Homo sapiens: one gene and its partners. The protein of the gene in region 1 purifies or fractionates together with the protein of each later gene. This does not show direct contact. Each region holds a gene or a part of one and is shown on either strand. Other genes may lie near its edges.

The links.
Region 2: the proteins of ATP2A1 (region 1) and CUX1 purify together in Homo sapiens (affinity purification with mass spectrometry, with the first as the bait; one large-scale study listed by BioGRID). This does not show direct contact.
Region 3: the proteins of ATP2A1 (region 1) and CFAP54 purify together in Homo sapiens (co-immunoprecipitation; one large-scale study listed by IntAct). This does not show direct contact.
Region 4: the proteins of ATP2A1 (region 1) and OSTC purify together in Homo sapiens (affinity purification with mass spectrometry; one large-scale study listed by BioGRID and IntAct). This does not show direct contact.
Region 5: the proteins of ATP2A1 (region 1) and COA1 purify together in Homo sapiens (affinity purification with mass spectrometry; one large-scale study listed by BioGRID and IntAct). This does not show direct contact.
Region 6: the proteins of ATP2A1 (region 1) and ABCD1 purify together in Homo sapiens (affinity purification with mass spectrometry; one large-scale study listed by BioGRID and IntAct). This does not show direct contact.
Region 7: the proteins of ATP2A1 (region 1) and SLC25A17 purify together in Homo sapiens (affinity purification with mass spectrometry; one large-scale study listed by BioGRID and IntAct). This does not show direct contact.

Annotation. Positions count from the first base shown.
Region 1 is NC_000016.10:28,877,125-28,881,287, reverse strand, and holds the start of ATP2A1 (sarcoplasmic/endoplasmic reticulum calcium ATPase 1), read right to left. Parts: upstream 2,801-4,163; 5' UTR 2,617-2,800; coding exon 2,499-2,616; intron 2,332-2,498; exon of another isoform or gene 2,190-2,331; coding exon 2,172-2,189; intron 1,800-2,171; exon of another isoform or gene 1,788-1,799; coding exon 1,705-1,787; exon of another isoform or gene 1,367-1,704; intron 1,246-1,366; exon of another isoform or gene 1,194-1,245; intron 374-1,193; coding exon 269-373; intron 1-268. UniProt on the Homo sapiens protein: Key regulator of striated muscle performance by acting as the major Ca(2+) ATPase responsible for the reuptake of cytosolic Ca(2+) into the sarcoplasmic reticulum.
Region 2 is NC_000007.14:102,198,626-102,202,125, reverse strand, and holds part of CUX1 (Homeobox protein cut-like 1), read right to left. Parts: intron 3,325-3,500; coding exon 3,259-3,324; intron 2,056-3,258; coding exon 1,954-2,055; intron 767-1,953; coding exon 1-766. UniProt on the Homo sapiens protein: May be involved in intra-Golgi retrograde transport.
Region 3 is NC_000012.12:96,646,577-96,650,076, forward strand, and holds part of CFAP54 (cilia- and flagella-associated protein 54), read left to right. Parts: intron 1-1,298; coding exon 1,299-1,441; intron 1,442-3,314; coding exon 3,315-3,496; intron 3,497-3,500. UniProt on the Homo sapiens protein: Required for assembly and function of cilia and flagella.
Region 4 is NC_000004.12:108,653,599-108,657,098, forward strand, and holds part of OSTC (oligosaccharyltransferase complex subunit OSTC), read left to right. Parts: intron 1-1,965; coding exon 1,966-2,059; intron 2,060-3,500. UniProt on the Homo sapiens protein: Subunit of STT3A-containing oligosaccharyl transferase (OST-A) complex that catalyzes the initial transfer of a defined glycan (Glc(3)Man(9)GlcNAc(2) in eukaryotes) from the lipid carrier dolichol-pyrophosphate to an asparagine residue within an Asn-X-Ser/Thr consensus motif in nascent polypeptide chains, the first step in protein N-glycosylation.
Region 5 is NC_000007.14:43,642,524-43,646,023, forward strand, and holds part of COA1 (cytochrome c oxidase assembly factor 1 homolog), read right to left. Parts: intron 2,877-3,500; coding exon 2,728-2,876; exon of another isoform or gene 2,723-2,727; intron 1-2,722. UniProt on the Homo sapiens protein: Component of the MITRAC (mitochondrial translation regulation assembly intermediate of cytochrome c oxidase complex) complex, that regulates cytochrome c oxidase assembly.
Region 6 is NC_000023.11:153,731,356-153,734,855, forward strand, and holds part of ABCD1 (ATP-binding cassette sub-family D member 1), read left to right. Parts: intron 1-3,496; exon of another isoform or gene 3,497-3,500. UniProt on the Homo sapiens protein: ATP-dependent transporter of the ATP-binding cassette (ABC) family involved in the transport of very long chain fatty acid (VLCFA)-CoA from the cytosol to the peroxisome lumen.
Region 7 is NC_000022.11:40,769,130-40,771,738, forward strand, and holds the end of SLC25A17 (peroxisomal membrane protein PMP34), read right to left. Parts: intron 1,853-2,609; coding exon 1,705-1,852; 3' UTR 501-1,704; downstream 1-500.

The DNA of each region.
Region 1 (4,163 bases):
CACACTGGATTGCTAGCCCCATTTTATGGATGAAGAAACTGAGGCTCAGAGGGATGAAGGAACTTGCTCAGGGTCACATAGCCAGGAAGTGACAGTGGGTCACAGTCTCCCACCTCTTCCCCACACTCCATCCCATTCCAGACCAGGGGATAGGACCAGAGGAAGAGGCAAGTATGGGGGAGGTGATGGAGGAGGAGGAGACTGGAGGGAGGGTTGGCCTCTTCTTCACTGTTGGGACATGAAGGGGTAAGGAAGGGTCAACGCTAACCTGCCAAACCCCCACGATGGCATTGGCAATGAGGATCAAGAGGATGACAAAGGGTTCAACAAAGGCAGTGATGGTCTCTTCACCTTCCTCAAACCAGGCCAGCACCTGGGGAGCAGGGGAAAGGAGAATGACAGGTAATGAGGCCCCAAAACAGATGGAGAAAGGAAGTGGACCACTGCAAAGGGGAGAACTGTGCAGGAGAGTGCAGGAGCCAGCAGGAGGGCCGGGCACCGTCGGGGCGCTGTGGCCCCACATCCGTCTGAGGGTCTGTCCATCCACTGCAGGTCCTGCCACCGCCTTACTCAGCGGGATGGGCGCGCACAGACTTGCACCACTTGGGGGATTAGCTGGGAATGCTTTCAGGTTTCCCTGACCAAGCTGCTGGCTTAGAAGCGAAGCTCAGGCCAACCCCCCGCACAGCCACATCCATCCCACGGGAGCCAAAACCCGAGAGGAAAAACCCTGTGGTCTTCGCAGGCGGTCTGGCCCCCGCAGCCCTCCCCCTCGGCCAAGGCAGGGAAGCTCCGGTTTCACGAGGGAGCCGGAGCGGGGATAGGGTTACGGGGCCTCCTGCGCGCGCCCCGCCCCAGCTGTTGCCACCGCCAGGCAGCAGGCAAATGTCAAGGAGCAAATCTGAGAAGGGAGAGGAGAGGCCCTGCCAGCTTGTGCTTAACGCGACGGGGCCTGCGTTCGGAGACCAAGGCACAGGGAGGCTTTCGTTGCCTCCAGAGTCCCCAGCGAGGCTCACATGCTGCGGAAGAACCCGCGACATGCAGATGGACCGCGGGATGGGGAGTAGCCCCCAGGGCGGGAGAGGAGGCAGAGCCCTGGAGATGCCCTGCGGGGGTGGGGGTGCCTAGGGAGCGCGGGGAAGGGCTAAGGCCAGGCTGGGCGGGTAATGAGGGATGCCAGTGCCCTCCCTGACCGGGCGCCGGGCTCCTTGGAGTCATCATCACACCGCCGCGCTTTCCCGCCACTAGGAGCGAGTCCTCCCCTCGACCAATCAGCGTCAGGAGGCTGGGGAGGGCGGGGCAGGGGCGCCGACGGGCGCGGGGATTGGTGGAGCGGCCGTCCGCCCGGCGCATGCCGGGAGTGGCAGTGGCCCCCCGCGCCGCAGCCGGCATCGCGGCGGGACCCGGAGCCCGGAGTTCGGGTGGGTAACCCGAGCTCTCCAAGCTCTTGAAGCCGCGAGGGTGGCTTAGCTTCGGTGTTTTGGCTGAGAACACCCTTAAAGCTTAAAATAAAACCTGCCTCTGGGGTGCAGGGGAGGAGAGAGGAGGACGCGAATCACACCCGCTGCTGCGCGCCAGCCCGCCCCGTCTGTACAATGGGATGCTCGGGACTCGGACGGGAGGATCCAGTGACTGCGAGCCCCGCATTCGCCCGATCCCAGCCTCACACCCCCAGCCAGCCCCCAGAGACCCTCCCACACTTACGAAGGAAATGCATGCGGCCAGGAGGAGAATCCGCACCAGGAGGTCTTCAAACTGCTCTATCACCAGCTCCCACAGGGTCTTCCCTGGGGGAGGAGGCAAGGGGAGGGCCCCGGGTTAAGGTCTAGTGGGTGAAGGTCTGGGATGGAGCGCCCTGGACTCCGGCCTGCAGTGGGGAGGCTCTAGGGTGGTGGGCAGACAGCTTGGTGCCCAGAGAAGGGCTAAGAAGCTCGCCTGGAGTCCAGAAACAGACTCGGCAAAGTGGGGGGCAGTTCAAGGGTTGGCTGCTTCAAGGAGAAAGCGCCTGGGAGACTTCTGCCCCGGACAGGACTCTAACCTTTAGGGAGGGAGATTTGCCTTTTGGGAAGGGATATTTGCTCAAAGAATCTAAAGAGGCAGGGAGGAGGGAGTGGGACAGGGCGGGGTGGGGGGTGGTCATTTATGAGAGTTCAGGGATTCCAGTAACTTACCTTCCTCAGCAGGGAGCTCTACCCAGGAAAAAGAAGAAAAGGACAGATTCATTTGGGGTTCAGCCTCATGCCCCCCACACCCAAGACTTTGTGGCTAAGAGAATCAGGCCACCTTGAGGTTCATCAAGTTCATCCCATTAAAACCTCCCAAAACTCTGGATCTCGGGACTCTGTTTTCTCAGTATCTTCTTCCCCCTGCGAGCATTGGACAACGGCCCAGCTCTTCCTTAAGAAACCCTGAAGGGAGAAACGCGTGCATGCGTGTGCGTGTGTTTTGGGGGTGCAGGAGGGCATTAATTACCAGCCGCTCTTCCAAGGGACACTTACCATTGAGGCCGTATTTCTCCAGATTCCGCTTAACTTGGTCCGGGGTGAGGCCCGTGGTCTCACTCACCCCAAAATAGGCCAAACATTCCTCCGTGGTTTTAGCATGAGCGGCCTCCATTGTGCTCCCTTCCTGGGGGCCGGGGCCGGTGTGTTCCTTCCAGGGGGTTCCCACTCGTGGGGGGTCTTCCTCAGTGTGTCCAACTGCCTGTCTGCCTGGGTTTCTTCTTTTTACTCTCCTGCCCCCTCCAGGTTTTTCTTCCCTCCACAAAGCTCTGACCCCCGTCCCACTTGAGCAGCCGGCCACCCCCCGGCCCCCAGCTGGTCCTTATGAGGGAGCAGGGGGAGGCCGGGCTCCCCCCTCCACCAGATCAGGGATTGGCTGGCTGAGACTCCAGCAGGAGGTGGTCAGAAAAGAGAGATATTTCTGCTGACAGAGGGGGAACAGTGGGGCTGCAGCCTGAGATGTCACTCATGAGGGACGCAAAGGTAGCCCCAGCCCCAGGGAAGTGGGGTAGGGAGAGACTTCACTTTCTGTCATCTGCTACTGACCCTGCCCCCCCATTGCCTCGACTTCCCCAGCTGCATTGAATTTCCCATTCCAAACTCATCCCCCCAGTTCTTCCCGGAGCCCTCTTCCATCCCCGGCCTCACCTGTCCCTTTCCTCACACCCCCCTTCCTGCCTCATCTGCCCGGAGCCTGTTTCCATTGCCGCAGTCTCCTTCCTCCTCACCCCATTTGCTGAAGCAGTGGCAGAGATACCCCAAGCCTTTGGGGGACTGATGAAGGGAGAACATCTTTTGGGGGCTAGAGGAAGTGAGTGGCTCCTAGAGGGACAAGGGGAAGTGAGGGGAGAGAGTCAAGGGGACAGGGCCGAAGATGGTAACCCTACCCTAGGGAGGGGTTGCCACAGCCATCAACAAGGGATTTAGTGTCCAGGCCCTGGTGAGCAAAGCCAGCACTGCCTGTCTCTCCCCAAAACTGCCCCCCCCCTTCCCCATCGCTCTAACTCAGCCTCTGGGAACAGAGCCCTGAGGGCCCCCCCATCCTGGATAGGGAATCCCCACCCCACCCCCAAGAAAATGGGACACCAAGGCAGCCAAGTAACCCAAGAGGCTACAGAATGTGCTGATGGCAGAGGGGGAGGGGTAACTGTCTCAGGATGGGGGCAGGGGTCACCCCAAGTCGTGCACTGAGGGTCACCTCATCCCACACTGTGCTCTAACCAACGGGGTTTCTGTGGCCAGCCCCAGAGGCCTGTGGTCTGCGCTGCACTCTGCCCTGCTGCATCTGTCCACGAGGGGAACAGGATCAGGCCCATGCTGTGTGCGTGCAGGAGCTAGGCAGACCCCACAGAAAGGTGTCGGGGCCTGGGGAAGCTGGACCAAGCAGGGGCTCCAGACCAAAGGAATGGGGAAGGGTGGACTTCTGGGGACAGGTCTGGGGGAAATAAGGACAGATGTCTAGACCTAGGGGGAAAGGGAGCAGAGACACAGAGCCACCAGGGTCAGAGGGAAGTCCGAGCAGCAGTGGGGAAGAGGGACAGCAGGGAGCCAGGTGGGCGGGGACCCCGGCGCTGGGTGCAAAGCCACAAGTTGTTGCTGAATGCTGGCCTTGGTGTCAGCTTCCTCAGAGAAGCAGCTGCTCTGAGCTGCCCCTCCCCACCC
Region 2 (3,500 bases), on another chromosome or scaffold:
ACCTCCTGGTACATGTAGACCTCGTACTGCTCGGGGGTCAGCGGGGGGACCGAGGGCTTGGTGGGCTTGGACATGGGCACGATCGGGGAGGATGGCAGGGGGCTGTTCTGTGGTGTCTCGCTGCGGCTGGCCCCGGTCAGACTCAGCTCTGAGCTCTGGGAGTATGGGGACTCAGCGCTGGGCCACTCCTTCCAGTACTCTGACGACGAGGGTCCCTGGAGCTGACTGCGCTCGGCCCGAGGCTGGCTGCCACCTCCGCTGCCACCGCTGCCCTTCTCTTTCCCGCCGCCCGTTTCTTCGGCCTTGGCCTCCTCGGAGGAGGCGGCATTTCTTCTCTCCGGCTGCACCGCGCTCCACCAGTGGTCCTTCCAGGCACCGCTGCGGCCCACCTCATTTTTCACCTGTCTCAGGACCCCTTGTGCACAATCGGCTGCTCCCTGGGGGTCCAGCCCGGGGGCGTCCTGGGCCTCCTTTTTGAGGGCCGGGGGGTTCGGCAGAGCAGAGGCACCGGCCTCAGGAGCTGCGGAGGGCTTCTTCAGGGAGATGGCGAGAGGTGGGTAGCTGGACACGGTGGGCATGGGCGAGGTGGACAGAAGCTTGGGGGTGAGGATGGTGATGTCACTCTGGGACAGTGGTGCCTGCTTTAAGGCAGGGTCGAGGGCAGCCTGCTGGGCCTCCATCTCCCGGCGGGCTTGCTGCAGGATGGAGCGGATGGCGTCATCAGAGTTCCCGCTGCCGGATGCGGAGGAAGGCTGGGCCGGCTCTGCTGCATGGAGAAACAGGGGTGAGAGTGTGGCAGGGCGGCCCCCTTCAGCTGGGGACATGCTTCTCATCCTAACTTGACCTACTGCAAAGTGTGGGTTATTTGGGAGAACCACACTGTGTATTTCCCCAGCATGGCCCCTGTCAGTGAAACATTCAGGCATCTTGTCTCAACCAAGGACCAGGGCCTGACACTACAGCTTGATGACCTGGTGGCCTTTGGTATACACACAGATGTAGAGGGTAATAAAGGGGGTGTCAGTGAAAGTGCTCCCCGACCTGCCCTCCTGGGGCTCCTTTCCCCGAGAATTTTTTTTTTTTTTTTTTTTTTTTTTTTTAGCGACAGGATCTCGCTGTTGTCCAGGCTGGAGCGCAGTGGCACGATCACGGCTCACTGTACCCACCCTCCACCTCCCTGGCTCAAGCAATCCTCCCAGCTCAGCCTCCCAAGTAGCTGGGACCACAGGTGCATGCCACCATGCCTGGCTAGTGTTTTAAGAGACAAGGTCTCTCACTGTGTTGCATAGGCTGGTCTTAAACTCCTGAACTCAAGTCATCCTCCCCCATCAGCTTCCCAAAATGCCAGGATTGCAGGTGTGAGCCACCGCGCCTGACCTCTGATAATTTTTATACTTGGTATTCATTTTCCTGTGCTATATTCTGAAATGCAAGTGGTTCTGTCAAAGTTAAGGAGCGTAATTTCTGTGAATAATTACAACTAGGGGCCAGGCGCGGTGGCTCACACCTGTAATCCCAGCACCGTGGGAGGCCGAGGTGGGAGGATCACTGGAGGTCAGGAGTTCGAGACCAGCCTGGCCGACATGGTAAAACCCCGTCTCTACTAAAAACACAAATATCATGGGCATGGTGGCACATGTCTATAGTCCCAGCTACTCGGGAGACTGAGGCAGGAGAATCGCTTAAACCCGGGAGGCAGAGGTTGCAGTGAGCTGAGATCGTGCCACTGCACTCCAGCACAGGCAACAGAGAGAGACTGCATCTCAAAAAAAAAGGTAACTATTAGGCAAATACAGATCACACAGACCTGCTTCTCTCTACGTGCCTAAATGCTTGAGAACAGGCATTCATTATTGTTTAAAAAAAAAATAGTTAATTACTGCTGACCAGAGCACTCATGACAATTCTCTTAATTAAGTTTGAAGACAGTGGATGAAGAAATGGAAGCTGTACCAGTTTTCTGCACTTGGAGCTCCCTCTTGGCTTGCTCTAGGATGGACTTGATGGCTTCATCAGAGCCAGTCTCCGAGGCTCGGATCCGGGTGGTGATGTTACCTGTGGGGAGAAGTTGCGCCAATGACATCAAACCCAAACCCCGGACAAAAATCAGCGCTGCGCGAAGACGTCATTCTGATATATAGCCCCGGGTGGGGGCTGGTGACACAAGGAGGCAGATGTGGCCTCCCAGTGGCCTGTGTTTGCTGTGAGTGCAACTTCACAGCGACACCGGGCAGGAGGGATTTCCTGCTCATTTGACCTTACGGTCAATGTTACTCTGCCAAAGCCGGACACCACCCGTGGGTTAGTACCCGGGAGAACCGATCATTTAATCCATATATATAAAAGGCGAGTGATTAAAAGGCAATGTTTCTCATGAGTCACTTAGAAGCAACTGCTGTGGCTTGGGACTGACTCTCCTCGGGGTTAGATGTTTATTGGATGCTGGGGTCCCACACAGGATAAACGGAAAAGGAGGGCAGAGGGTTTGAGGCTGATTGTCTATCAATCATTCAGAGGCACAGGGTGAAGAAAGGCTTAACTTAAAAAATTGTTTGCACCTATTATCACATAATATCTTTTTAAAATTTACATACGAGGAAAGGAGCCTGCAGAAATTCCTAAGTGGGGAGGATGGATTCTTTCGGCCACATGGTGATGTTTTGTGCAGGCACACGTGCCGACGAAATGAGGCTACTATGGCCCAGGGGCTGGCCCCAGCTCTTTCGGGAAGCCACCCGGATAGTTTAATTTCTTACTACCTTCCTAAATAGGAACCACTGCATTCAAAACAAGTATACCACCATTTAAAAACAAGTATGCCACCGGGACGATGTGGGATGCGTCCGTTCCATAGGACCTTGAGTGTGTTTCCGAGTTAAAAATACGAGGAAGCAGCAGTATTTAATTTGACGGGTCACCTGACTTTTCTCAGAGCAACCGCTGTTATTTTTTCAACTGCGTCTGAGAAAAACGGGGGACCGGGTAATTAGGATCTGAAGTGGGCTGGGATTCAGACTCGGGGGGCTTAGCTTAGCAATGCCTCTTCTCACCCCCGCCTGTGCTTGGGAGAGGGCAGGCAGCTCGGGAGGAAGGGGCTGGGTGTGCTTGAACCCGTGCCTTGTTTTATACTTACTAGCTGTTTTTCCATCAGGTTCCAGGCCAGAATCACACTGCACAGTTTTAACCCAAATACACAGCTAAGGACATGCTGCTTCCCTAGGTGACTGACTGCAAAGAAAACGCCTGCCTGCAACATACCTTCAGACCCATTTCTTCGTTTCGGTACTTCCTGAAATAGTCTGTTCAGGCTCTGGCCTGGATTCTCTGTTGAAAAACAAGTGTGGTAAGAACAAAACAATCAGGGGAATGGTGGTGTTGACGATATGGGCTGTGTGACATGAAATCTGAGCCGCCTGTCACTAAAGAAAGGGCTCAGGGCTGCCTGTGCAACTCGGGAGTTTCTAGAATCTTCTGAGAGGCCCTTCCCTGGCTGACCGGCC
Region 3 (3,500 bases), on another chromosome or scaffold:
TTTGACCCAGCCATCCCATTACTGGGTATATACCCAAAGGATTATAAATCATGCTGCTATAAAGACACATGCACAAATATGTTTATCACAGCACTATTCACAATAGCAAAGACTTGGAACCAAGCCAAGTGTCCAACAATGATAGACTGGATTAAGAAAATGTGGCACGTATACACCATGGAATACTATGCAGCCATAAAAAATGATGAGTTCATGTCCTTTGTAGGGACATGGATGAAGCTGGAAACTATCATTCTCAGCAAACTATCGCAAGGACGAAAAATCAAACACCGCATGTTCTCACTCATAGGTGGGAATTGAACAATGAGAACACATGGACACAGGAAGGGGAACATCACACACCGGGGCCTGTTATGGGGTGGTGGGAGTGGGGAGGTATAGCATTAGGAGATATACCTAATGTTAAATGACGAGTTAATGGGTGCAGCACACCAACATGGCACATGTATACGTATGTAACAAACCTGCACATTGTGCACATGTACCCTAAAACTTAAAGTATAATAATAAAAAAAGAATAATGAATATAAACTATTTATTTTTTTTGATGCAAGACTGTTCAATGCCTAGACCTTATTTTAAAAAAGAAATGAGGGCTGCGTGCAGTGGCTCACACCTGTAATCCCAGTACTTTGGGAGGCCGAGGTGGGCGGATCATGAGGTCAGGAGATCGAGACCATCCTGGCTAACACGCTGAAACACTGCCTCTACTAAAAATACAAAAACTTAGCCAGGCGTGGTGGTGGGCGCCTGTAGTCCCAGCTACTCTGGAGTCTGAGGCAGGAGAATGGCGTGAACCCAGGAGGCAGAGCTTGCAGTGAGCCGATATCGCGCCACTGCACTCCAGTCTGGGCGACAGAGCGAGACTCTGTCCCAAAAAAAAAAAAAAAAAAAAAAAAGAAATGCCATTGATTATGGACACATTACTATATATAGTAAGCATTGTCATTGAGTTCTGTTCAAATCAGGTGGTTTTAAGTTGAAATAAATTATCGTTTCAGAGCTCACAGAGCCGGCACAGATATTTTTATTCCCATTTTCAAGAGCCCTTTCAGAGAAATATATATTGATGTTAAAATTCCTAAGAGCAAAATTACATTGCATAATTTTAAAAGTTAGTGAAAAAATGTTGGGCTTTGATTAAGTGACAAAACCCTTCATGATTTAAAATTTGGGAGTACTCACAAATGTTTTAAAAATAAAAATAGATTGCATTTGACAGATTTAATTCAATTTTGCTTATATTGTTTTTTAATATGATTTTTCCCCCCTTGCAGTTTCCGATCATGTGATCCTAACATGTTTTCACTGTATAATTCAGGAACAGTATTACCAACAAGAAAATTGACTGTAGAAAATTATAAAGCAATGCTTGATTTCCTTCTTACAGCCAAAAAAAGAAAGGCCAACTTACCATCAGGTAAAATAAACATGTTAGTTTATTATTAAATTACCTCTAGATTTTTATTCACTAAACAACACAGCACACATACACATTGTGGACACACAAATGTATACACCCAGTTTTCCAAAGGACCAGCAATTTAGTTGAGTTTTGATATTTTGTAGGAGATTCTTGTTTGCTCTATTTTAAAAAATTTCTATATTCTTATGATATTATTGCATATATTTGGAAATATCTATTTTGTATTTTAACCTTAGCCAATTAGATTGTTCAGCAAATATAATGTTTTAAATTTAATATTCATAGCCTTTGGTGGTTCAAGATAGGTGAAGACTTGCTATTGGGTATTATGTTTTAGTGCAAATAAGTTCCCAAGCAAAATCCATCAAACATACTAATACAAGCAGTCACCCAAACTATCATGATAGCTGATTTTGTATTCAGGGGAATCCACCATTGCCCTAGGATTTCCAACCAGCATCTTCCAAGAAAGCTCACTCTAAGATGAATGAAGCCTTGTTATCTAGTCAGGTGACAGGGGGCTCCAAAAGGTAGAGACATGCAGGTAAACAGGGTTCTTTTTTTTTTTTTTTTTTTTTTTTTTTGGAGACGGAGTCTCACCCTATCACCTGGGCTGGAGTGCAGTGGCGATCTCGGCTGGCTGCAACCTCCGCCTCCTGAATTCAAGCGATTCTCCTGCCTCAGCCTCCCCAGTAGCTGGGATTACAGGCACGTGCCACCGCGCCTGGCTAATTTTTTGTATTTTTAGTAAAGACGGGGTTTCACTATGTTGGCCAGGCTGGTCTCCAACTCCTGACCTTGTGATCCACCTGCCTCTGCCTCCCAAAGTGTTGGAATTACAGGCGTGAGCCACTGCGCCCGGCCGAAAACAGGGTTCTTGATCAGGGTGTGCTCTGGAAACTGTAGTCTGACGAACCTGACTAATTTCCACACCCCTTTCCTGCAAAGATGATGGAACCTGGACACTTTCTAACCAATGATATGGTTCATTTCACAAATAAAAATTTATTTCTAATGCCTTTAGGCTCTTACATACTCATATAGACTTTTAGTAATGACATTTTAAGTGCTATGGGATTTATTGCCAACCAGAGTTCTTGGTATGCCAGTTAATGCCCCAGGAGTGTTGATTTATGTTTGAGGGACTTGGCATGCTTTCTGACTTCTTCTAGGATATAGATTAGATTTCACAGGTATGTGCATATCATACTGTGTATAGTGAAGTATTTGAAAGTGAATTCCATAGCCATAGAGTCTGGTTTTTGAATATAGATTTTAGTATACAGCTTCCTGAGTTTTTCTTTTTTTAAAACTGGCTCTCTACCTAAGACCTACCATGAAATTGGCAATAGAATATTTTGCTACCGAGACTTACTATCTAATGCAGGGTTCTAAGAGAAAGTTGGTGGCAGGAGAAAGCCTTCTTTTTTATGCCACACCAGGAGGGGAATGCGTGGCCGAGGTTGCTGCATTGCCTAACTCCAGAGGTGCAGCTCACTTTCTGATATATTGTCTTAGGAATGGCCTGTTTGGGAGGAAATGAAAGGACAGTAGTATTTTCTATTTTTCCTTTCAAAAAACATGTACATTCCTACTTCTGCATTGTTCCTTTTGCCATCGACTTTGTCTGAAATGACGTTCTCTGTATTTCCCCATATAGCTAAATGATGCCCATTCTTTAAGACCCAAATACCTCCTTCTCTAGAAACTTTCCCTGGTTCATTGTATCTCTGATAGTCTTGTCCTTTCTCCAAGTTTATGTAGCATTTGTTATCTGAATTACTCACTTGATCCTTATCACCTACTGTGTTTTCTGGAACTTAATTCTATGTTTTTAATCATGTCATATCTTATTTTTGTACTGTAGATGCTGAAGAATTTTCTACATTTATTAATTCCATAATGAGTGATGAAAATATGTCCAAGACACAAACAGTTTATGACTCAGACTCTCAATCAGGTTCTAGTGCTAAAGAAAAGGACCGAGGAGCAAATTTGTGTGTAATGGATCATTTTATGAAAATCTTTTTATACTGCAGGAGAGCAATGGTAA
Region 4 (3,500 bases), on another chromosome or scaffold:
GTTTGAGCTCCTGAATAGATGGAAGTATCATTTCCTGAGATTGAGAAAACAAAGTTTTTGGTGGAAAATGGTGCACCAGAGGTTGTTTTGGGGTAAAATTAGTTGGATATGTCACATGTGCAGATGGGAGTCTAGACCTGAGAAAAGAGGCCTGTGTTGAAGTTGGTCAACTAACAGACATTTCTGGAACTCCCATGAGACATTGAAGAGTATAGGCAAAGTCCAAAGTCTCTGTTCTTGAGGAGCTTACATGTAATTCTAATGGTACTGGCATTATTTGAGAGGCCTTGGCACATCACATTGAGAGTCTTTAGCACATGAAATTGAAAGCCCTGGGAGTTCATTTTGGAGAAAAGTAGAAGAGGACAGTGGACCAATCCCTGAGGGCCTCCAACATTTAGTTCTTTTATAAAAGAAGAGGCCCAATAGAGAGGTAGCAAGAAAACATGAAGAGGAGTATCACAAAAGCCATAAGAAGAGGTGTTTTTCAAGAAATTGGTTTAGTAAACTGGATTGAGTGCTTCTGAGAAGTCCCCTAAGATGAGAACTGAAAAGTGTCTATTGAATTTGACAACATGGAGATCATTGGTGACCTTAGAAAGAGCAGTATCAATGGTTGCAGAAGCCAGATTGGATTGAGTTGAAGAATGAAGGGTAAGTAAGAAAGGGGAGATGGCAAGTTTGCCTAAGTCTTCCAGAAGAAAGTCTGACTCCCTTTCAGAAAGCAAAGATAGAAATAGGATGTTAGCTAAGAGGATCTGAAGTCAAGGAGGGTTGATGTAGGGAAGGAGAGCTTGAAAATACAGGAGAGAGGAGAGATATCCAAAGGAATAAAGTCCCTGAGAGTCCAAGTGGGAATGGACTCCTGGTAATTGCAAAAGGGATCCCACATTATAGGAGGTGGGAATCTTCCTCTTTGTAGCTGGAAAGAAGGAGGTGAGGATGGATGCAGGTACCAGGTATTTGTAGATTTGGTGGGGAAAAGACAAGGGAATTCCTATAGGATTGTTTTGTCAGGCTAGGATAAGGGAGATAGGCTTGTTATGCTTAAGAAAAGCTGGAGATGAAGATGTTTGAGAACAGTGGAGAAGGTAGAGTAGATGTTGACAGTGGGAGATTGAGAAAACTATTAGTGCTGATGAACATTAATGTTAATGATCACGATGACATTATGACATAATGGTGGACATTAATGTTAATGATTATGAATCTCTAGTATTGCCATTCTGCCTGATGGCGTGGTTTTAAAATGTCTCCTTGTTTTACATTTAAGCAATTTCTCTAGTTATTTTTCAATTTATAGAAACAAATCTAAGCATATCTGAGACAATTTTTGTGAACCGAAGTAGAGCCTTTAGTTTTAAATCCCCTTTATACTAAAGTCATTCCTGAGTATTAGCAACTCTTATTGGATGAATTTCCTTTATGAAATTTGTACTTCATTTAGATATCATACAGTTTTCAAAGTAATTCTAAAACATTGAGTTGAATGTCTGAATGATTTATCAGAACTTTAGATGAGTTGGGCCACATTTGGTTATAATAATACAATCAAAGCATTCCTATTTAAAAGTAAATGAAACTTGGCCGGGTGCAGTGGCTCACACCTGTAATCCCAGCACTTTGGGAGACTGAGGCAGGTGGATCACCTGAGGTCAGGAGTTCGAGACCAGCCTGACCAATATGGTGAAATCCCGTCTCTACTAAAAATACAAAAATTAGCTGGGCATGGTGGTGGGCGCCTGTAGTCCCAGCTACTTGGGAGGCTGAGGCAGGAGAATTGCTTCAACTTGGGTGGCGGAGTTTGGCAGTAAGCCAAGTGGCGCCACTGCACTCTCAACCTGGGCGACAGAGTGAGACTCTGTCTCAAAAAAAGTAAATGAACCTTAAGAGACAATGAAAACTATAATCCTGTTTTCAAAAATTAGTAATACAATCTAATCTGTTCTGTTGTCTTTCTTATAGGAATAATTTATGATGTTATTGTTGAACCTCCAAGTGTCGGTTCTATGACTGATGAACATGGGCATCAGAGGCCAGTAGCTTTCTTGGCCTACAGGTAAAAGATACCTTTTTGAATGATTTGGTGGTGGGAAAGAAGGTTGCTGTGGTATGCCCACTTATTTAAAAATAGAGTAAAACCTATGGGATCCATGTGTATTTAGACAACAGCTGTTTTAAAATGCTGGATTCTGAAATGGCAGAAAGTGAGTCAAAAACAAGAGTATATTATTTATTTATTAAGAAATAAAGTATTTCATAATGATGTATCACCAATTTACAGTAGGGTGTCAGTTTAAACTACATTTATAGATTGTTCTGGGGGTCAGTGAACTATAGCTGCTTTTTTTTTCTTTTCCCCAAAAAAGTTTTATTGGAAGTAAGTATGCCCATGTGTTTTATATGATCTATGGCTGCTTTTAAGCTAGAGTGGCTGAGCTGAATAAGTATGACACAAACCATATACCCCACAAGCCTAAGATATTTACTATATGGGTATTTAAGAAAATATTTTTGGACTATACCCTGGTCTATACCATTAAATAACAAAAGTATTTTTGAGACTTTGAGGGTTCTGTTTCATCAGTGAAACCCCGTTCCAGTGTGGTTTTGTTCACCTGAACAATGCTTATATTGCTTTCTAAAATTTACTTAATATCTACCAAAACATAGCTATATGTTTATATTTGCAGTAATGCTATTTATGCATAGAATATTTCTGGAAAGATTTATTAGTATTCTCTGTGGAGGGGAGTTAATGACAGGTTGATGGTAGGGTGGCTCTTCATAGTGCCCTCTTTCACACTGTTTGAATTTTGAACTTGGTACATATATTGTGTTTTCAATGAAAACAATTGACCAAAAAAAAAAAAAAATACCCTGTTTACATATGCCTATGTATAATCATCCCTTTAACGAGAAATTTTCTTCTTGAGGTCCTTGAACTATGAGAATTTGATAAAAGCTCTGTATCCCTAGAAAAATCACACACACACACACTTTTACATATAATTAGAGGGGTTTGTAGTTCACTGAAGTTCTTATGGGACCCATGGAGCCTTATTTAAGAACAGTTTCTTTTTAAAATATTTCCATTTGAAACAAGAAGTTTATTATTATTAACATAAAACTTCAAGAAACACATCTAACCAATTCAAAATTAGTTTGAATTGATAGTAGAAATTTAAATAGCATAACTTTTTAAAAAAAGCTAACCTAGACCGGGCGCAGTGGCTCACGCCTGTAATCCCAGCACTTTGGGAGGCCGAGATGGGCGGATCACGAGGTCAGGAGATTGGGACTATCCTGGCTAACCCGGTGAAACCCTGTCTCCCCTAAAAATACAAAAAATTAGCCAGGCGTGGTGGCACGCGCCTGTAGTCCCAGCGATCTGGGAGGTGGAGGTTGCAGTGAGCCGAGATCGTGCCACAGCACTCCAGCCTGGGCGACAGCAAGACTCAATCTCAAAAAAAAAAAAAAGCTAAGCTAAAGTTCTGGGT
Region 5 (3,500 bases), on another chromosome or scaffold:
TTATAGAATTAAGCAACAGAGTATACACTGAGCATCTCTGGATGCTTTAAAAAAAAATTTAAAAAGGAAGGAGAAAGAAATGGGCAGAAGCAAGAAGGATTCTGAAGAAGAGCAAACTCTGAGGGGCCAATGTCTGAACTGTGGGCAGCTGTGCTTCCATGGGTAGATGTGACACTTTACAGGTTGGTTCCTTCACCAGCCAGACCTTGCCAAAGATTAAAGCAGGAGTTCTGGTAAAGCAAAGTGTTGGTCACTGGTGACTATCTCACACACATACTTGGGAAAAAATCCCAATGTATGACAATTACTTCATGAACAACTGAAACATCTCACCTCTGGAAAAACTGTAAAAATTGCAAATAAAGGAATTTGGGATAAGAGGGCATATGCTGTATACAGGCATCCTCACAAACCGCTGATTATAAAGAAAGGACCCTGACAGAATGTCAAAAATAGTCCACAAATTGGAAGGCGTGCACTGAGGCTCCAGGTGGCCATGATGCAGCAGACTCTGAACTCCTGTCACTGCAGAGTCACAGCATTTGGCCGCAGTAGAAGCCAGAACCTAGCACCACAACCAACATAGTCACAGCATGGCCAAGGCCCCAGGGATGTGGGGAAGCCCAGGAAGGCGCCCTCTCAGCACCACTGGGGCCAAAGTGAAAGCTGGACAGGACAAAGCTCCCACCAAAACCACCATGGCCTTACCCTACTCTCACTGGGGTTCCTGGAGCACCAGATCATGGATGCTGCATCAACCAGCCCCAGCAAAGGCGCCTTTGGCACACAATTCCTCAGTGCTACAGCTGGGCTCTGTGCTGAGAGAAACGCAACAGCCAGACCTACCCAGTGGCTTTTCCAAGTTCTCAGGATTGCTGGGGTCTAGCCAAGTGACCAAAGGCAAGGAAGCAACAGACAGGCTCCGCCACACCATGGGAGCAATCCGGTGGCCTGGCACAGAGTGAGCACTCCACACATGCCCAGCCCTTCCCTGTGCTCCTCCTCCAGGATGTCCTCTCTCACGCAGTGTCGCTGCCGTCCTTCCACTCACGTCCATGCTGGACACTGGACCATCACCTCTGACCCACCCGCTCCTGATACATGACTGTTACCAAGTTCTGTCACTTGGATGCCACGATGGCTTCACATCCGTCTTTTGCTTCTCCAGGCCACACCTCTGGTTCATGCTCTCACCACTGCACACCAGTGTGGCCACATCTCTCTCCTAAAGATGGCTCCCCGTAGCCAGTCCCTGGGCATTACCAATCTACACAAATCCACCTTCTTTTAAAACCGAATATTTTAATCAGAATACCAGAGCATGAATTGCTTTTGTAGTTAGAAAAAAGTCTCATTAGAGCTGGGTCCATTAAGAACATACTAAAAATAACAAAAAATAATGTAGGTCGGATCACCTCACTCATCCTCCAAATACTTTACGGGCTTCTGCTGCCAGAGTCAAGCACACACCTTCCAAGATGACACTGTGGCCCCTGGTGGCCGCAGCCCCTCCTACCTGCCCACACCCACCTCGCCCACCTGTGCCTCCACTGCCGTATCACACTGACAGGCGACACAGTGATGAACTTTCCCAGGCATGCTGCTCCTCAGCCGGGTGTTCCTCTCCACCTTTCAAAGTCCTCACAGCCATCTCCCAGGCCTCGAGCCACTTCCCCTAGGCCTGCACAATAGTGACAGGGTTTCCCTCACCCTGTCTTACTCAGGAATTTTCAACTGTAAACCCCCAAAAGCCTTCTGCACCTCTATTCCCCACATAGCTTAGAATCATTTCTCAAACCAGAGCATATACTCAAAATATGTTTGTTAAACAGAACAAATGTGTTTTACATGCAAGTGAGTGTGATCAAGTACAAAAAGATAAGTTATAGCTAAAAAAATGGGTTGGTATTCTGTGGAAGCAATGTAAATAAATACACTTTAAAAATCAAAGTTTAAAGAGTTGGGTACATTTGAATGAGCACTGACTGGATATAGATGCATTTCTCTTTTTTTTTTAATTTTACAGACAATTTCACTCTGTCACCCAGGATGGAGTGCAGTGACATGATCATAACTCATTGCAGCCTCCAACTCCTGGGTTCAAGCGATCCTCCTGCTTCAGCCTCCTGGGTAGCTGGGATTATAGGTGTGCACTATCACGCCTGGCTAAATTATAGATAGATAGATTAGATAGATAGATAGATAGATAGATAGATAGATAGATAGATAGATAGATAGGCAGGCAGGCAGGCAGGCAGGCAGGCAGGCAGAGAGACAGAGAGAGAGAGAGAGAGAGAGAGAGAGAGAGAGACAGGGTCTTGCTGTGTTGCCCAGGCTGGTTTCAAACCCCAGGGCTCAAGCAATCCTCTTACCTCAGCCTCCCAAAGTGCTGAGAGCTATCAAAGCCAACATGGTAGCAAACCACCACTGGTCATTTCTCTACTACCTTCAATTCAAGATGGCGACATCAGCATACCCACTGCATTCCCTGCCACATCAATTCCCCAGAATGGAAGAAAAGTATACAGAAATATCTATAATATAAAATATATTTTATATAAACATTAAAATCCATAATAGAAAAACTTTTTTTAAAGGTGCCAAACCTAGCTTTACTTAGTGGATTTTCCCATCCCAAATCCTTAACTCCAGGACTTTCCAGGAGACAGTAGACTCTCCTCTCCTTCAGCAGGCACCAGCCTGCGGTTCGCAGGGAAAGCACATTACCTTGGCATCAACAATGTCCACGAAGTTTTCCCTGTCGATGAGCTTGAGATAATGGATGTTGAGAGGAGGGCCCAGAGCTTCCTGTGCCTCGGGATGGCTCTGCAGCTGCTCCACTGCCAACTTGTAATATAAAGCCCTGGAATGAAACTCTAAGGACGAAAGACACACTTATTTTCTTTATTGAACTTGGTCAGGTAGAATCTACTACACAGAAAATTAAATAATCCAACTGACGTACAGGGTAGAAACAGAAACGTGAAATCTGTGGATGGACGAATAATTAAGGCCATCTACTCTAAATTGTCCATTTTACAGACTCAAAAACCAAAGCACAGGCAGGCAGTGTTTTGCAGGGATGTGCAGATGACCTTGGGCCTTGACCTCATGCAGACCCTTTCTGCTTCACCTCATTTCTACCCTCACTCATTGCCTTATTTTGACACCTAAGAGGTTTGGTCAGCTCTTCTCTAAGTTTCCTCTCAAGTCTCTAAGTTTGCTCTAAAGTCCTACTATGATTCCATGACTTGTTCAAAGTGACACAGCTGGTCCATGGCAAAGCCGAGGCCAGAATCCATGATACCTGACTTCTCAACACTGCCTGTTCCACTAAGTTGAGACATAAAATAGAAAGACCACAACATTAACAACAAAACCCTCAGGCCTAGAAACAGGATATGAAAATGTTCATTCATCAAGATTTAAGCCAACATTTCAACTCAAACTGCTCTCAGTCTCAGGAATCCTTCTGAGCCCACAGGCTACCTGGGAACTCC
Region 6 (3,500 bases), on another chromosome or scaffold:
ACAAATTGTCCTCCCTGAGTACCCTGTGTTTCTTTTTTTCTGGGTACTTTGATCACTTTCTTTCTTTTTGGCATTCTGCAGTTTCACTATGACATGTTTAGGTGTCAGTTTTTGTTGATTCTGCTTGAGACTTGTTATATGTCCTTTGAATATTTGAGTTTTTCAATCATTCTGGAAGATTCTCAGCTATTAGCTTTTCAGATATTGCCTGACTCTCATTCTTTTTTCCTGTTCTTCTAGAACTGGCAGCCAGTGCTGGACTTCTGACTCTCTTCGTTGTGTCTTTCGGTTTCTGTTTACTGTTTCCCATCTCACACTGTCTGTGCTGAATTCTGGGGATGCCCTGAGGCCTTCCTGTTTGCTCATTTTCCAGTTCACCAGTTTTCTCTTTGGCCATGTCTAATTGGAATTTTGTTCACATTTCAGTGGCTGTTTTGTAAGTTCTATTTCATTCTATTTCAAATAGGAATTTGAAAATGGACATTTCCTTTTTCAAGTAGAAATGTCAGGCTGTTTCTGTGTCTTATTTGCTCATCTTTTTGACTGCTCCTTTTATACTGTGTATCAGGTTAGTCATACTTACCCCACCGTCTCTATCTGATGGTTTGGTTAGCTTCAGTTCTTGGGAGTATCATTCGCCTGTCTTCTGTCTGCTGGTCTTCACTCATGGTGGATCATTTCCTTGTGGGTTTTGCAACAGAACTTCTATGGGGATTGGTGTGGCCTCAATGGAGGGTGTAAGTCCAAATGTCCTTCTGTTTTGGCCAAGCACTCCAGGGTAAGCAGTTGGAGGCCATTAGTTAGTGCGGAGGGGATGGTTCCTGAATTGAGAGGTGGTTTCATTTGAATTCATTTGAACTCCAGGCACATTGTTACAAATTTTCAGAGGAGGCTTTTTGTTCATTGGGCATAGAGCCCAGGCTAAGCAAGGAAAGCTTCCTGGTCTTTGCCCTGCCTGCCTCTGGGGCTATCAAAGGATCACCTGGCTGTCTGCTTCTCTTTGCTCCCAGAAGTTTCCCTTGCTTTCCGTCAAGCTTGGCTCTGCTCGAAATAGTGTCGTAGTTTACCCAGTTTGGTGGGAAGAGGGTTTTCGATTTATAAACAGAAGTCTGATTCTCTCCCTGTTCCTGTTTCCACCTCGGGGCTTCCATGCCCTCAACTGTCTGTGTCATCCTCTGGGTGACTCACCAAGAGGAAGGATCTAATTCGGGGACTGCACATCAAGGGCAGCCTTGATGCTGGCGTAGGTGCCCAGCCCAGTCAGCGCACCTAGCCCCGGGCACCGAGACAGCCCGCGAGACAGCACCTGCAGCCGCTTCGCTCCATGGCTGCCATTGGTCACATCGGGCTGCTCCCTGCCCTGAAGGCTTAGGACTTTTCTGAGCCTCTGCTGTGCCAGGCTTTGTGGGCTCCTGGCCCTGCTCTGGTGGTCCTCAGAGCCAGCAGCCTTTGAAGGCTGTGAAGCATTCCCTTTCCCCTGGCTTGATAGGCTCTGTCCTGTGGCCGTCTGTTTTTTTTTGGAGGGGGAGCTTTTGAGATGGAGTCTCACTCTGTCTCCCAGGCTGGAGTGCAGTGGCACGATCTTGGCTCACTGCAACCTCCATCTCCCGGGTTCAAGTGATTCTCCTGCCTCAGCCTCCCAAGTAGCTGGGACTACAGGTACACGCCACCATGCCTGGCTAATTTTTGTGTTTTTAGTAGAGATGGGGTTTCGCCATGTTGGTCAGGCTGGTCTTGAACTCCTGACCTCAAGTGATCCACCTGCCTCGGCCTCCCAAAGTGCTGGGATTATAGGTGTGAGCCACTGTGCCTGGTCCTGTGGCCTTCTTATTTCCCCAAATGCCAGGCCTGCTCTGTCTTGGGGCCTGTGCCAGGAGCACTCTTTCCTCTGCTGCCCCATGGCGCAGCCCCCCTAGGCAAGGCCCGGCCTGCCCACCGCCACCTTTCCTGTCTCCTTCCCTGCCCCACTGCTCTCCCAAGCACTCGACACCCCGTCAGTGGCGCTTTTCTCTCTCCCTGCCATGGACTGCAAGCTCCATGGGGTCAGGGATTTTTGTCTGTTTTGTCCCTGCTGTGTCCCCTGCATCGGGTGGCTAGTGAGGGCTCCAGGTGCTTCAAGGAGGTGGAGCGCACTGGGTGGGAAGGCAGGCTCTTACCGGTTGGAAGATTTAGATAAGCTTTGCTGGGCTGGTGTGCAAGGCAGGTGGGCTCAGGAGATGGGCAGGGCCTGTGGCTCCCACTCCAGCCCTGAGGCCTTGCTCTGTCCAGCTCTGGGGCCCTGGCCTTATTCACCCAAGGCTCCAAGAGAACCTGCAGAAGGCAGCTGGTTCTACGCCAGGATGCCCTGGGCACAAAGACTTGCAGACCCTTCCCTTTGTCCACAGCGACTGTCCAGCTCTCAGAACACCTGGGGAGGAGGGCTGTGTCCTTGAGAGCACCGTGGGAAGGAAGGTCCAAGGCCTTCGACCTTTAGGATTCACATCCCCGCCCCGCCAGCCCAATCTAGTTCCCTGGTTTCCCGGGCCAGGCCCCTTTCCACCCTGCATGGCCCTGAGCGGATACTGCGTTCCGTGTCTTCCCCCAGCCCCCAGCCAATGATCCCTGAGGCTTCCCCCTCAGGATCACACCCACCCCTGGATACAGTCCTCGGGTCCTTCACAGGACATTCCCACCACTTCAGCCACACCCCAGCACCCTCAGAGGCGGCCTTCGCCCTTGCTCCCCACCTCTGCTCCTGTGGGGAATCTAAGGATCAAGAAACTGAGAGTCAAGGCCATTGATGAGGGTCAGGGGTGCTGCCACGGGGCCTAGAGTGTGACAGAAAAGCAAATTAAGACAGGAGCAGCTCCTGGGAGAAGCAGACACCAAACAATACGGCTGCTGGCCCAGAGGTCAAAAACCATGGCCTAGAGGGGGCGGTCAGGAAGTGGGACATTAGGCCGGGCGTGGTGGCCCATGCCTGCAATCCCAGCATCTTTGGAGGCCAAGGCAAGTGGATCACCTGAGTTCAGGAGTTTGAGACCAGCCTGGCCAACATGGTGAGACTTCGTCTCTACTAAAAATACAAAAAAAATTCGCTGGGCTTGGTGGCGGGTGCCTGTAATCCCAGCTACTCGGGAGGCTGAGGCACAAGAATCCCTTGAACCTGGGGAGGCAGAGGTTGCAGTGAGCCAAGATCACACCACTGCACTCCAGCCTGGGCAACAGAGCAAGACTCCATCTCAAAAAAAAGAAAAGAAAAAAAAAAGAAAGTTGGCGTTTCAAAGCCAAACAGCTCTGGGCGTTGGATGACAAAGTTCAGATGTGCCCCAGGAGGGGCGACATCAGTGGTGCAGGACAGAGGGCCGGTGGAAGGAGCTGGCTGTACGTAGAAACAAAACCAGATGCCTACTGGTGCATTTAAAAATCAACGTTATTGAGACGTAATTAACATACTATACAATTCTTCCTTTTCCATGTACAGTTTAAATTCATTCACAGAGTTGTGCAGCCATCATCAC
Region 7 (2,609 bases), on another chromosome or scaffold:
AAGGTCTGCCACAGGCACACAAAAACCTTAAAGTAAAATTAAAAAATAGAAAAAACAATTCTGTCTTCAATTCTCTGACTTAAATAGGGGATGAATGTTCAGTCTTCTTCCCAGATTATTAGCTCCTGCTAATTTTTGTTTGCTAGAACAATGCAATGATCTTTAACAATCATATACTTTGAAATTACCACAGGGACTAAAGAGAGGAAATAAGAGAAGGAAATTTCCACTCTCAAAATTGAACTAAATCCTTAATAATGAAGTATTTCATTATTACTCTCTCTGACTAAATCATGGACTTACAAATGAAAAACCCGCCATTTTGTCATAGGGACAAAAAGGAAGTCATAGAAATCCAAAGAACCGCTCTGCTAATGTCAAGTGAATTTGCTTCCTGAGTGGGTCGAGATATCTAAATCCACTCCTGGCCGCATAATAAAAGCCTTACCACCTTAACAACGTGCTGTGAGGTGAAAGCAAAAGATGACATACGACTCCTAGATTTTTCAGAGGTTGTTTTAATACATTAATCTCTTTCCTTTGAGAAAAATCTTTATCTTGATGTCTATAATCGAAACCAATCACTTCTTCTCATGGGTCAGGGGTCCTATGGTCTCCTGAACTTTAATGTGGCTGTGAATCACCTGGGAATGTTAAAATACGGAACAGGATTCAGAAACTCTGGGTTGCGTGCCCAGCAAGCTCTCAGCTTGTGGCAGTACTACCGTCTGATGGACCACACTGAGCAACAGGACTCTAAGGAAGGTTTCCAAATGAAATAACCTCAACCAGATGTTTATTTTCAAAATATACGGCCTACACCAAGTTTATAAAGGGAGATAATATCCAGACCTCAACAAGATATCTGCTCCCCTTCTCATTTTTGTGATTTTTCCCATCTGGTTGCAAACTCAACGTAATACCTTAATAAAGAGCAATTTTCAAGAATATCTTTTTTGTGCTGACCATTTATTGGGACTTGACTGACCAGGGCTTGTAAGAATGGACACAAAACTTCAAGTCTTTCGTAATGAAAGGATTGATTCAAAATAAATATTCTAAAAATTATGTCAAACACTAATGAATAAGTGACATTTACAAATAGTTTATAAGAGAATCATTTGGGTGAACAATTTTCATTTCACAAAATAAATAGCTCATATCCAAAAAAGACACCTCTCCTTAAGCAGGGAAAAAAAAGCCCAACAAAAATAAAGTCATGCCCGTGGCACAGCCCTAATGTTAGTTTTAGGGAGGAAAACACCAACACTGAGACATACAAAAGTATTTGAGGAGAATTACATGTTATTAAATTTGTCCTAGAACCTGGGGGAGAGTTCAGGGAAAGAGAACAGCTGGTATATTTAAGAAAGATTTAAATAGAAAACATTACACATGAGAGCAAAATAGTCCATTTCTCTTAAGAAAACCAATAAACACTCACAAACTTTCATTTTTAGGTTTTCAGCAATGTTTTTTTCACATTAGTCCAACTGCCACCCCAAAATCCAACCAGCCAGCATGACAATTAAGGTGACAACAGGTCCAGTTGGCCATACTCCCTGTGCACCCTTGGATGCTTTTCAAGCCAATGAGGGTAACATTTGTGGTGGCAGGAGCCAGAGTCAAGGGAGAATCACTTCTCTTCACTCAGGAGGAAACCTCCCTCTTGAGCATCTTCGGAATTTTTCATGGGAAGGCGTCTCAGTGTTGGTGTGCACGCTTCAGCCCCATAACTGTGAAGGTGGCAGCTGTCAGTTTCTCATAAACAAGGAACATGAGAGCAGCAGTGAGGACTGTCTGCAGCAGTTTGGCTTCAAGGCCTTTGTAGAGTCCCATTATTCCAAAACGTCTAAAGGGAAAGAGGTTTGAAAAAACAGAAGTCAGCTCCTGCATCAGAGAACATGCTACCTAGATAGCTACTTTGATAAGAACAAGCAATAGAGGTTTTAGATTTCAACACAGACTTCTGTTGTCAAAGTACTTTCCTTTTTTTGAGACGGAGTCTCGCTCTGTCGCCCAGGCTGGAGTGCAGTGGCGCGATCTCGGCTCACTGCAAGCTCCGCCTCCCGAGTTCATGCCATTCTCCTGCCTCAGCCTCCCTAGCAGCTGGGACTAGAGGCACCCGCCACGACACCAGGCTAATTTTTTTTTGTATTTTTAGTGGAGATGGGGTTTCACCATGTTAGCCAGGATGGTCTCGATCCCCTGACCTCGTGATCTGCCCGCCTCAGCCTCCCAAAGTGCTGGGATTACAGGTGTGAGCCACCGTGCCAGGCCCTAGTTTTTGGTTCTTACAAATAATGTCTTAAATTTGGAAGCAAGCTACATGTCCATCAACAGATAAATGGATAAAGAAAATGTGGTACTTATACAAAATGCAGTACTATTCAGCCATCAAAAAGAATGAGAGTTTGTTGTTTGTAACAACATGGATGGAACTGGAGGTCATTCTGCTAAGTGAAACAAACCAGGCACAGAAAGACAAATATCGCATGTTCTCACTTATTTGAGGGACCTAAAAATCAAAACAATTGAACTCATGGAGATAAAGGTAGAAGGATGGTTACCAGAGACTACTGGGAAGAGTAGTGGCGGGGGGAAGGTGG